Linked DNA regions of Homo sapiens: region 2 is linked to region 1. The links come from fine-mapping of genetic effects on gene expression. Tissue or cell type: whole blood. Region 1 holds a variant in brackets; the other region holds the start of a gene. All regions are shown on one strand. Distances are between the middles of the regions.

What was found. PIP is the estimated chance that this variant, and not a neighbour inherited with it, causes the effect.
Region 2: TBC1D22B starts here. The variant in region 1 is fine-mapped to the expression of TBC1D22B in whole blood (INTERVAL, PIP above 0.99).

The regions. Positions count from the first base shown.
Region 1 is chr6:37,325,964-37,331,205 of GRCh38, reverse strand. It overlaps TBC1D22B (TBC1 domain family member 22B), which reads right to left. Exons shown (of 13, transcript NM_017772.4): 13 at 1-162. The coding sequence ends at 34. Among named protein-coding and RNA genes, the nearest start is that of RNF8, 25 kb to the left of the region's middle. The variant TA/A (reference allele first, on the strand shown) is at 2,163.
Region 2 is chr6:37,255,523-37,260,522 of GRCh38, reverse strand. TBC1D22B (TBC1 domain family member 22B) reads right to left here and starts at 2,751. Exons shown (of 13, transcript NM_017772.4): 1 at 2,550-2,751. The coding sequence starts at 2,605. TMEM217B (transmembrane protein 217B) reads left to right here and starts at 2,379. Exons shown (of 2, transcript NM_001395378.1): 1 at 2,379-2,955. It overlaps TMEM217 (transmembrane protein 217), which reads left to right and starts at 2,379. Exons shown (of 3, transcript NM_001286401.2): 1 at 2,379-2,955. RefSeq lists enhancers at 1,749-2,384, 2,471-2,530, 2,631-2,690 and a silencer at 2,791-2,920.

The DNA.
Region 1 (5,242 bases):
GAAGGCAGTCTGGGTCCCCGGAGGAGACAGCACCTATCGGCGGTAGTGATTTGGGGCATCGGCAAACATGTACTTGAGTCTGTATGCCTCGGCGAGAAGCAGCCCAATTTCTTCGTTGCCCCAGTGTATTGTAGGTAGGTTCTGTAGCAGCATGAGGAGACCCTGGAATGCAAGAAAGGACTTTTATATCATACCAGACCGTAGACCATCAGACAAGTGAACCCATTCTTAGAGACCAAGGCCTAGAATGGGGCCCCTTCCTCCTGGCTCACACATCTCAAAGAGTCCAGCCTCCTTCCTCCCAAACAGTACACAGCTTTCAGTCCTAGTTCACCTCAGGAGGTCTTGAAAGCCTCTGCTGATTCTCTAGTCCACTAACACCTGTCTCTTTAAAAACATAAAAAACATAAATAGGGAATGACAACAATAAAGATTTTTAAGAGAGAAAAATAATCACTTATCCAAATATACCTCTCTTAATCTTAAAGTATTCATTTTCAGTCTTTTCTTCACATGCATATTTCTTTAAATAGTTGTAACAATAATTATGACTTTTTTTTGAGACAGGATCTCGCTCTGTCACCCAAGCTGGAGTGCAGTGACGCAATCACAGCTTGCTGCAGCCTTGAACTCCTGGGCTCAAGTGATCCTTTGACAAAGTTAAAATATAGGCCAGGCGCGGTGGCTCACGCCTGTAATCCCACACTTTGGGAGGCTGAGGCGGATGGATCGCGAGGTCAGGAGATCGAAACCATCCTGGCTAACACAGTGAAACCTGTCTCTACTAAAAATACAAACAATTAGCCAGGCAAGGTAGCACACGCCTGTAGTCACAGCTACTTGGGAGGCTGAGGCAGGAAAATCATTTGAACCTGGGAGGCGGAGGTTGCAGGGAGCCCAGATCGCGCCACTGCACTCCAGCCTGGCGACTGAGTGAGACTCTGTCTCAAAAAAAAAAAAAAAAAAAAAAAAAAAAAAAAAAAGAAACGGACAAAATATTTATAACATCTATAGAAGATAAAAGGTTAATATATGTAATCCATAAGGACTGCCTACAAATCAGTAAGAAAGAAGGCAAACAGCCAAATGGGAAAACAGACTAGCAATGTGAATAGCTAACGCACTAATGCCAGTGGCCACTCACACTATGATGACTTACAAACCCTGCTCCTAGCTGATCCGAATACTCCAGCAGCATTCTGCAGTTCTCAGTGTAAAGGTCTTGTGCATCCTTTATGAGATTTCTTCCTTTAGTACTAGAAGTGTAGCTGGGCACAAAACTGCCCAATGCACATCACTGCTATGTGTGGCCAATACGATTAGGTTCTGGCCAATTCTGGATGTGAACAAAAATGATAGGTGTAACTTCTAGGTTTTGCTCTAAACTTCTCTCCCTCTTAGAAAATGGATATGAATGGAGGAGTAGAAGTGATCATCTTAGACCATAAAGTTAAAGCATGTGTTGAAGATGGCAGAGTAATAAGACAAATCAGAGTCCCTAACACTCCAAAACCATAATGTTAGCCCTGGACTGCTTACACTTAGACTGTTAGTTGAAGGGAAATAAACAACTCTCTTGTTTTAAGCCACTGTTATTTTGAGGTCTTGGTTACAGTAGACAAGTTTATATCATCTTAACAAATACATACCATATCTATCAAAATAAGAAATGCACATGGTCTTTCATCCAGCAACTCTGCTTCTAACTCTCTATCCTAGGGAAATAGTCACACTACTGTGTGTACAAAGGTATTCACTGCATCATTGCTTCAAATAGTGGAGAAAGGATACTAGAAAAGCGTCTGGCAATATGGGAATGGTGAGATAAACCATGGATTATCTGCATCATGAGATGCAAGGCAGCACTTGAAACAAGCGAAGCCGGTCTACATGTATCAGTATATGAAGATAAAGAAGACATTTTGGAAAGGATAAAAAAGGCAGTTGCAGAACAATATTTACAGTATGATCCCACTTAGGTAAAAGAAAAAACACAACAATATATTTGTATATGTACATGTACACATAAACATTTTAGAGAAGTGGGAAACTGTTCACAGTGGTTACCCTTTGGGAGGGAAGCCTTTCACTTTTCTCTCATTATATTTATGTATCTTATAAAATATTTGTGTATTATTGTGTTATGAAATAACTTTTTTTTT[TA/A]GTAATAACTACTCTGGGCTGGGCGCAGTGGCTCATGCCTGTAATCCCAGCACTTTGGGAGGCCGAAGTGGGCCAATCACTTGAGGTAAGGAGTTTGAGACCAGCCTGGCCAACATGGTGAAACCCCGTCTCTACTAAAAATACAAAAATTAGCCAGGCATTGTGGTGGCCGCCTGTAGTCCCAGCTACTTGGGAGGCTGAGGCAGGAGAACTGCTTCAATCTGGGAGGCGGAGGTTGCAGTGAGCCGAGATCACGCCATTACACTCCAGCCTGGGTGAAGCTACTCTGTGGAAATTTTGTTTACTAAAAAGTAAAAAAAAAACAGAAAATAAATTACCCATAACTTCACGATCAAGAGGAAGCCATTTTAAAACATTTTGGCATATTTCCTTCCAGTCCTTTTCCTACATATTTTACATACTTGAAATATTTTCTCTACATAATTTTGAATCTATGCAACATTTACCGTAAGCATTTCCTCTAATATTAAAAATTCCTTGTAGATATTTTCAATATCCAAAGAATTTTCCATGATGTAAGATGTACCAGAATTTACATCCTCCTGTTTTGAGCATTTAATTATTTCTGGTTTTTCACTATAAAAAATTATAATGAACATCTTTATGCACAAAGCCTTATCTTGGATTATTTCCCTAAGCCAAATTCCTAGAAATGAAATTACTATTTCAAAGGGCATAAACATTTTATTTTTATCTATCTATCTATTTATTTATTTAGAGACAGAGTCTTGCTCTATTGCCCAGGCTGGAACGCAGTGGCACAATCTCAGTTCACCGCAACCTCCGCCTCCCAGGTTCAAGCGATTCTCCTGCCTCAGCCTCCCGAGTAGCTGGGATTAGCCATCACACTTGGCTAATTTTTGTATTTTTAGTAGAGATGGGGTTTCACCATGTTGGCCAGGCTGGTCTCGAACTCCTGACCTCAGGTGATCCGCCCGCCTCAGCCTCCCAAAGTGCTGGGATTACAGGCATGAGCTACCGCGCCTGGCCCACCACAAACATTTTAAAGGTCTTTAACATTCAACCAGAAAATATATTCCAGAAAAATGCCCATTTCCCTAGATCTCTACCAGCACTAAATATTCTCATTTAAAAAAAAAACAAACTTTGCTAATGCAAAGTCTTCCCTTTGATCCCCAAGCCCAAGAACAGAACTCAAAGCCGTCATGATGGTGGTGAACCCCCGGAGGAGTGCACATCCCAAGGTCCCCACTCTCCCCTCCATGGTTGCTGGCATCTGCTCTCTCCAACCCTCCAGGCAAACCCCTCCAGTCACATGATTACGGAAATTCACTCAACCAGACCAGTTATTCAACCAGTTATTGATATTCACTCAAGCCAGCAGATGCTCTGCTTTTAAAAACTCTGCCTTTAGCTGATCGGAACATCTTTGGAATATTCCCCTCTCACAGGAGTAATTCCCTCTTGGTTCTATTCTGGCCTCAGTCCTGTCTGCCTCAAAGCTTTTTTTGTTTGTTTTGTTTGAAAGAGAACCATCATTTCTATCTCAACTTATTTTTTTTTTTTTTTTTTTTTTTTTTTTTGAGTCGGAGTCTGGCTCTGTCGCCCAGGCTGGAGTGCAGTGGCACGATCTCGGCTCACTGCAAGCTCCGCCTCCCGGGTTCACGCCATTCTCCTGCCTCAGCCTCCCGAGCAGCTGGGACTACAGGCGCCCACCACCACGCCCGGCTAATTTTTTGCATTTTTAGTAGAGACGGGGTTTCACCGTGTTAGCCAGGATGGTCTCGATCTCCTGACCTCGTGATCCGCCCGCCTCGGCCTCCCAAAGTGCTGGGATTACAGGCGCGAGCCACCGCGCCCGGCCCTATCTCAACTTATTTTTTAAAATGTTGACCTTGGACCATACTACATGCCCCCACCCCCATGCCACCATGTACTCCCTGGCCTCTGGCCCCTTTTACCCATCTCTGCTGCTTCCTACCTCCTTCCCGCACCATGTCCCTATCCCACAACAACTGGAAAAGGTGTTGCCTCTTTTTGCTAACATTCTCCTCAGGTAGACCACTTGTATCCTAAGTTAGGCAGGCTCTCTTTATAATGGTCTCAGTCTTTTCTGTACCTTAGACTCTTGGGCTGTCTGGTGAACCCCATCAATCTCCTCAGAATAATGGTTTTAAATATTAATACATAAAATAAAATGCATACTAATCAATTTTTTTAAAATTTGTGATATTCACCTCTGTGTGGTAAGATTTCTTTTTCTGTTTTTTTTTGAGACGTAGTCTCGCTCCGTCACCCAGGCTGGAGTGCAGTGGCATGATCTTGGCTCACCACCACCTCCACCTCCCAGGTTCAAGCAATTCTACTGCCTCAGCCTCCTGAGTAGCTGGGACTACAGGCATGAGCCACCATGCCTGGTTAATTGTTTTTTATTTTTAGTAGAGACGGGGTTTCACCGTTAAGCCAGGATGATCTCAATCTCCTGACCTCGGGATCTGCCCACCTCGGCCTCCCAAAGTGCTGGGATTACAGGCGTGAGCCACTGTGCCCAGCCTAAGATTTCTTACTGGAATTTTCTAAATTTTTCTATGATGGTTACATACACTTGCAAACTGATAACAAACAAGAACAGCCAACAAAGGACATAGCTCTCTAGAAGAGAATACTTTTTTTTTTTTTTTTTTGAGGCGCAGTCTCACTCTGTCACCAGGCTGGAGTGCAGCAGCAATCTTGGCTCACTGCAACCTCCAACTCCCAGGTTCAAGCGATTCTCCTGCCTCAGCCTCCTGAGTAGCTGAGATTACAGGTGCGCGCCACTGCACCCAGCTAATTTTTGCATTTTTAGTGGAGACTGGGTTTCACCATGTTGGCCAGGATGGTCTTGATCTCTTGACCTCGTAATCTGCCCGCCTCAGCCTCCCAAAGTGTTGGGATTACAGGCGTGAGCCACCGCGCCCAGCCGAGAATACTCTTTGTTGAGATGAGATCTACCTATAATTTCCAATTCTTCCAGTCTTAACAGAAACCTCTCAAAAGCTTCCAAATAATTCCACCCCTGCACAAGTGAATGTCCCCACTTCCCCCAAGGGAAGTGATG
Region 2 (5,000 bases), 71 kb after region 1:
GTACACTTTAAAAGAGTGAATTTTATGGTATGTGAATTATATCTCAATAAAGCTGTTATTTTTAAAAAGAATGTTTCATTCATTTGCAACTTCTTTTATTTAATAAAATTTCTATTTGTTGTCACTAAGATTGTTGGATCATGATCAGACAAATGGAAAGAACCCTGTCATCGCTTTTATTTTTCACCTTTCAATTTGCAAAGAAGAGTAAACTAGTTTCATTTCCAAGTTTGCATGCATCCAGTAGAGTCATTTGTGTCATTTCCCCACCCAGGAGAAAGTTTTTCTTCTCTAAGACCGAAAGAGTACAGATGCAAAAGTTCTATTCTTGAGAAAATGCCCTAACATTTTCTTTAAACCAAAGTACCTTTCTATCTAAAAGAACCTTAGTTTTCTCCTATGACCAGAGGCTTGTGGGCTTCACTGCTAAAAGCACACAGCTGAACAGTATTTCTCTTTACCAAGTAAGGTACTAAAAACTATTATGAATTGTGACAATATTTGAATACCTTAAACAACGAAGACAATGAGCTGGGGTAAGGATCTGAGTAACATTATTTTAAATGTTTACTTGCTGTAATAATGACAGCAATGTTAATAACTACTGTTTTTTTGAGCAACTATAATGTGCTAAATAAACACTGTCCTAGGCTCTTTACAAATAGGGTATTTCACTTAGTCCCCACAGTAACTCTGAGGAAAGTATTTTTATTTCTCATTTCATAGGTAAGGAAATTGAGGCCTAGAAAGATTATTTGTCTTGGTCACACACACAACAGAGCCCAAATAGTAACCCAAGTCTTTCTGAACTCGAAAGTTCTCTATTTCTCTATATTCTTCAAAATGAAAAAGGAATCCAGAAACTTGAAGAAACTGAAAAGACTTCTCTTCCTATCTCAGAAAAGTAGTGCTTTAAAAAAGTTGACTGTTCTTATAGCCAAATACAGGAAATATAGGAAAAAAAGATTGTTAATAGCAACCAGCAGTCAGAAGGCACAGAAGCCCATGCCACGTCCCACATCTCTTACACTGCTTCCTGATACAACAGTCTTCCTATTGATTATGATTATAATCTTAGGATGTCAAAATTTAATGATCTCACTACGGAAAACCCCAGAGAATAGCAGTTAGCACAACTAGAGAGCTCACTAGACCAGGAAGGAAAAGGAATCAGTTGGCAGGAAGTGTGCTTACCTAAAAACACAGAACATCTTTAACAGTAATATTAACACTGTTGAGTCCACAGCACTTTAATCTGAAGTTATCTTTGCATTCCTTTCTATTACTTTAATAAGTATTACTAAAAGCTGATTTCCACCCTATTCTCCATATGTCTACTAGAATCCTTAATAAAATAAGACTCTTGGTGGGGCATGGTGGCTAACGCCTGTAATCCCAACACTTTGGGAGGCCAAGGCAAGAGGATCACTTGAGGCCAGGAGTCAGAGACCAGCCCTGGCAACACAGTCAGACCTTGTCTCTATTTCATTTAAAAAAAAAAAAAAAATTAAGGCTCTTACCTAGCCACTACTGACCCTCATCTCTCTCTCGCTTAAAAAAAAAAAGTCACGAGTTCAAAAGATTATCCCAGAAGGAAAAAACCTGAATCCATTAGAAAAGGTAGCACAGGGGACACAACCAAACATGAATTTCATCACCAAGTAGACTGTAGCTGGCAGAAATCTTAAATTTACGACTGAAATACACACTCTTCCTTATACTTCTCAGGACTTTGCCCAAAATAAACTGAAACAGTAAACCAACAGTAGATTGATGGATGGATAATTTGCCAAAAGTCTCAACATACACCGAAAAGAGGGTGGGGGTAGTCTTAGGGGGTCTGCTCTCCAGTTAAACAACTGAAGAATGAACGAATTTAGTGCATTTGCACAAGAAGTGCATTACAATGCAGGGGAGGAAGAAGTCACTTGGGGTTGGACAAATCCTTAGAAAATGCCAAAGGAATAACCCTGATTCTGTGGTCGTCTTGTAATAATTCCTAGTGGGAAAGGGCCAACTCAAGATAAAGTAAGGTCAGGGTTGAGAATCGTCCTCACTTTTCCTGCCTAACCCTCTCGGCAGGCGGCCCCAAACTCCCACCGGAATCCTTCGGGTAAGTGCCGACCTCAGGGATCAAGGGAAGGGGCCATCCTCGAGCGACCAACCACCTGTGCGTGGTGGAGACCCCTGAGAGGGAGTCCTAATTAGAGTGGGAAGCAGCTCTGGGGAGGAACTTCCGAGACCAGGGCCGACACTGACTATTCACCCAACTCCACTCCCCTTTACGCCCAATCTTCGGCCACCTTCCCGCTGAGGTCACCCCTCCTGAAACCTCCGCCCCCAGACCCCGGTCTACACCCACATCCAGCCGTCCCCAAAGCTCGCTGTTCGCTTCGCTGCCTGACAGCTGCCCTGCCGCCACCAGGCAGTCCCAGCTTCCCCAAACCAGTCTTCTGGCCTCTGTGGCGCCCCAGGCCCGCGGGATTCAGGGATTAGGATCTGGAAGGGTTTGGTCCAATCCCCTATCCCTCTCAGCGTCCTGGGCTCACCTCCCCGGCAGCTTAGCGCTCCTCTTCCAAAACTGCTTGCTGTTCTCAGCGGCCATTGCTCTGGCCGGGGGAAGTCCTTGTAGGCGGGCCAAGGGTTTGCCCGGCGAGATGCCCCCAGACCCCGCAATCTGAGGGCCAACCCAGGCCGCTTCCCCGCCGCCGGTCACCCGCTCCCAGCTCCTGGGGACGCCATCTTGGATGTGGGCACCCCTCCACCCAGCACCGCTGCCATTGGTGAGCTGCGCAAGCCGTGGACGGGCCGACCAATTGGGAGCCGGAATCCTGCAGGCCGCTGAAGCCGACCGGTAACGTCAGGGGCTGGGCACACAGGTGGACGGGGAAGGCGGAGCTTGGACGAGCCGAGAGGCGGGGCTCAAAGTTCCTACCCGCGAGAGGGAAGAAGCAGGTAAGGTAAGGGACCTATGGGAAGGAAGAGGGGATTATCTTCTTCGTGAGGAATGAAGTTCCTTAGTCTAATATTTCTTGGCAAGAGAGAACATACTATGTATTTATATATAGGAATCTTTCACCTAAAAGTAAGGGCCCATGTGTTGGTTGTGGCCCATTTTTAACATCTCTCAATTCAATGACACTCTGGTTATTACCCTCCTTTCCTCATTCCGTTTACATGTCCATTCGTTTTTCTGAAGGAAGGTCAGCAGGGACCCGATAGCCCGGGATTGCTAACTGTTCAACACGTGAGCAACGGTTCATCAGAGTCTCCCTCTCCCTCTGTTTATTGAAAACGATTGAAGGACTTGTGCTGTGGGTTAAAAATTCAAATGATCTAATCCCTATGTCAATCCATAACTCTCACTTTCTGACTATGCTAACAGTGTATATAGGAAATGGTTTATGATAGCTGTCCAACTCAGATTACCAAATACCATTTCTTTGAAGGACACAGTATTGCTCCATCGTGTGAATCACAAAGTTAAGGATGTATCTCCTCCCGGCCCCACCAACATCCTTAATTTCCCTTGTTAATCTATTATAAATCTTGCACCCTTGAATTTATTTTCAATCTAATTTTCCCAGACAATGAGATTTAGTATTAGCATTTTGAATCCTTTGAATGTCTTGTCAGCGTTTTTTGCTGGTTTTGAGTTTCTGTGGTTGTATTCCGTGGTGATTTGGGGAAAGAGGGAAGGCGGGCACCAGTCCAGAGTGGTTTTTGTCCCTTCGAAGGACTGTTGAGGTGGGCTGCGTGTCCCCCACCCCCACCCCCACCCTCCATTTACAGCTACCACATGTACTTCCACATATTGGAGAATACTTAAAGACCTGACCCCTGGCCCCAGCCAAAGAAGGACCTTCTTTTATATGTCCTCCAACGACGGTTTCTTCATTACTCCCATTTTCAAGCTTCTTTTGTCCCCTAATTTAAGAATTATAGGATTGGATGACAAGGGCTATTTTTACTTCCTCTGAGTCTTTCATGCTATAAAAGCATCTTATCTTCTTTATGGGCATTTAACCCAGAGAAAAAAAGCCCCTCTATTCTTTTAATTATTTTACTTGCCTTTCTCTGGCGCTTCTTTTTCTTAGGATGCAGTGACCAGCACTGCACACTAAGCCCAAAGAGGGATGTACTGAGGCTTTGTTAAGGCTGATGTTTTGTCTTTATTCTGGACAGCCAGACCTTTTGCTGGCTGTTTGGACTTTAGAAGAGTTGATGTCTTGAAAGAGTAATCTAAAACAACTTCTAGATTCCTTACCTTGGTGGCAACCAGCAGTTCAGAGTTCATTGTCTTAAAGGTATCCTCTGAATTGTCTTTCCCTATGTGAGCTGCCATACACTCATCCATGTGACAAGATACCTGCCACTTTCCAGCTTATGCACATGGCTTTAGAGATGTTCCAGAAGCTGCTCCCTATTGATTTGACATTTTACTATGTGGAAAGCAAAGTATGATTTGTGTATCTAGACATATCTCAAAATACTCCTTTTTCTTAATCTTCTATGAAATGTTAAATGACACTGATTCCCAGGGGGTGTAGTTAACAGTGCTCAACCCAGAAAAGCCCTGTTATTTCTACAGTTTGTTTTCTATATCAGTTTCCCCTCCAAGATTTTTTAAAAATTCACATCAGTTACCTTGTGATGACTTTTTAAATAGGGAAATTGAGATTGTTGGAACCTTTTTCACCACTACCACTTGGTCACCCTAATCTTCACCAACCACACACCTGCTTACAGCAGCCTGCTATTCGGCTCCCTGCTTCCACTCTTAGCCCCTTAGAGTCCATTCCCCATATACCAACCAGAGAGACCTTTTTTTTTTTTTTTGAGACCAGGTCTTGCCCTGTCACCCAAGCTGGAGTCCAGTGACATGATCTCAGCACACTACAACCTCCATCTCCTGGGCTCAAGCAATCCTCCCACATCAGCCTCCTGAGTAGCTGGGACTAACAGGCACATACCACCATGGCCAGCTAATTTTTTGTATT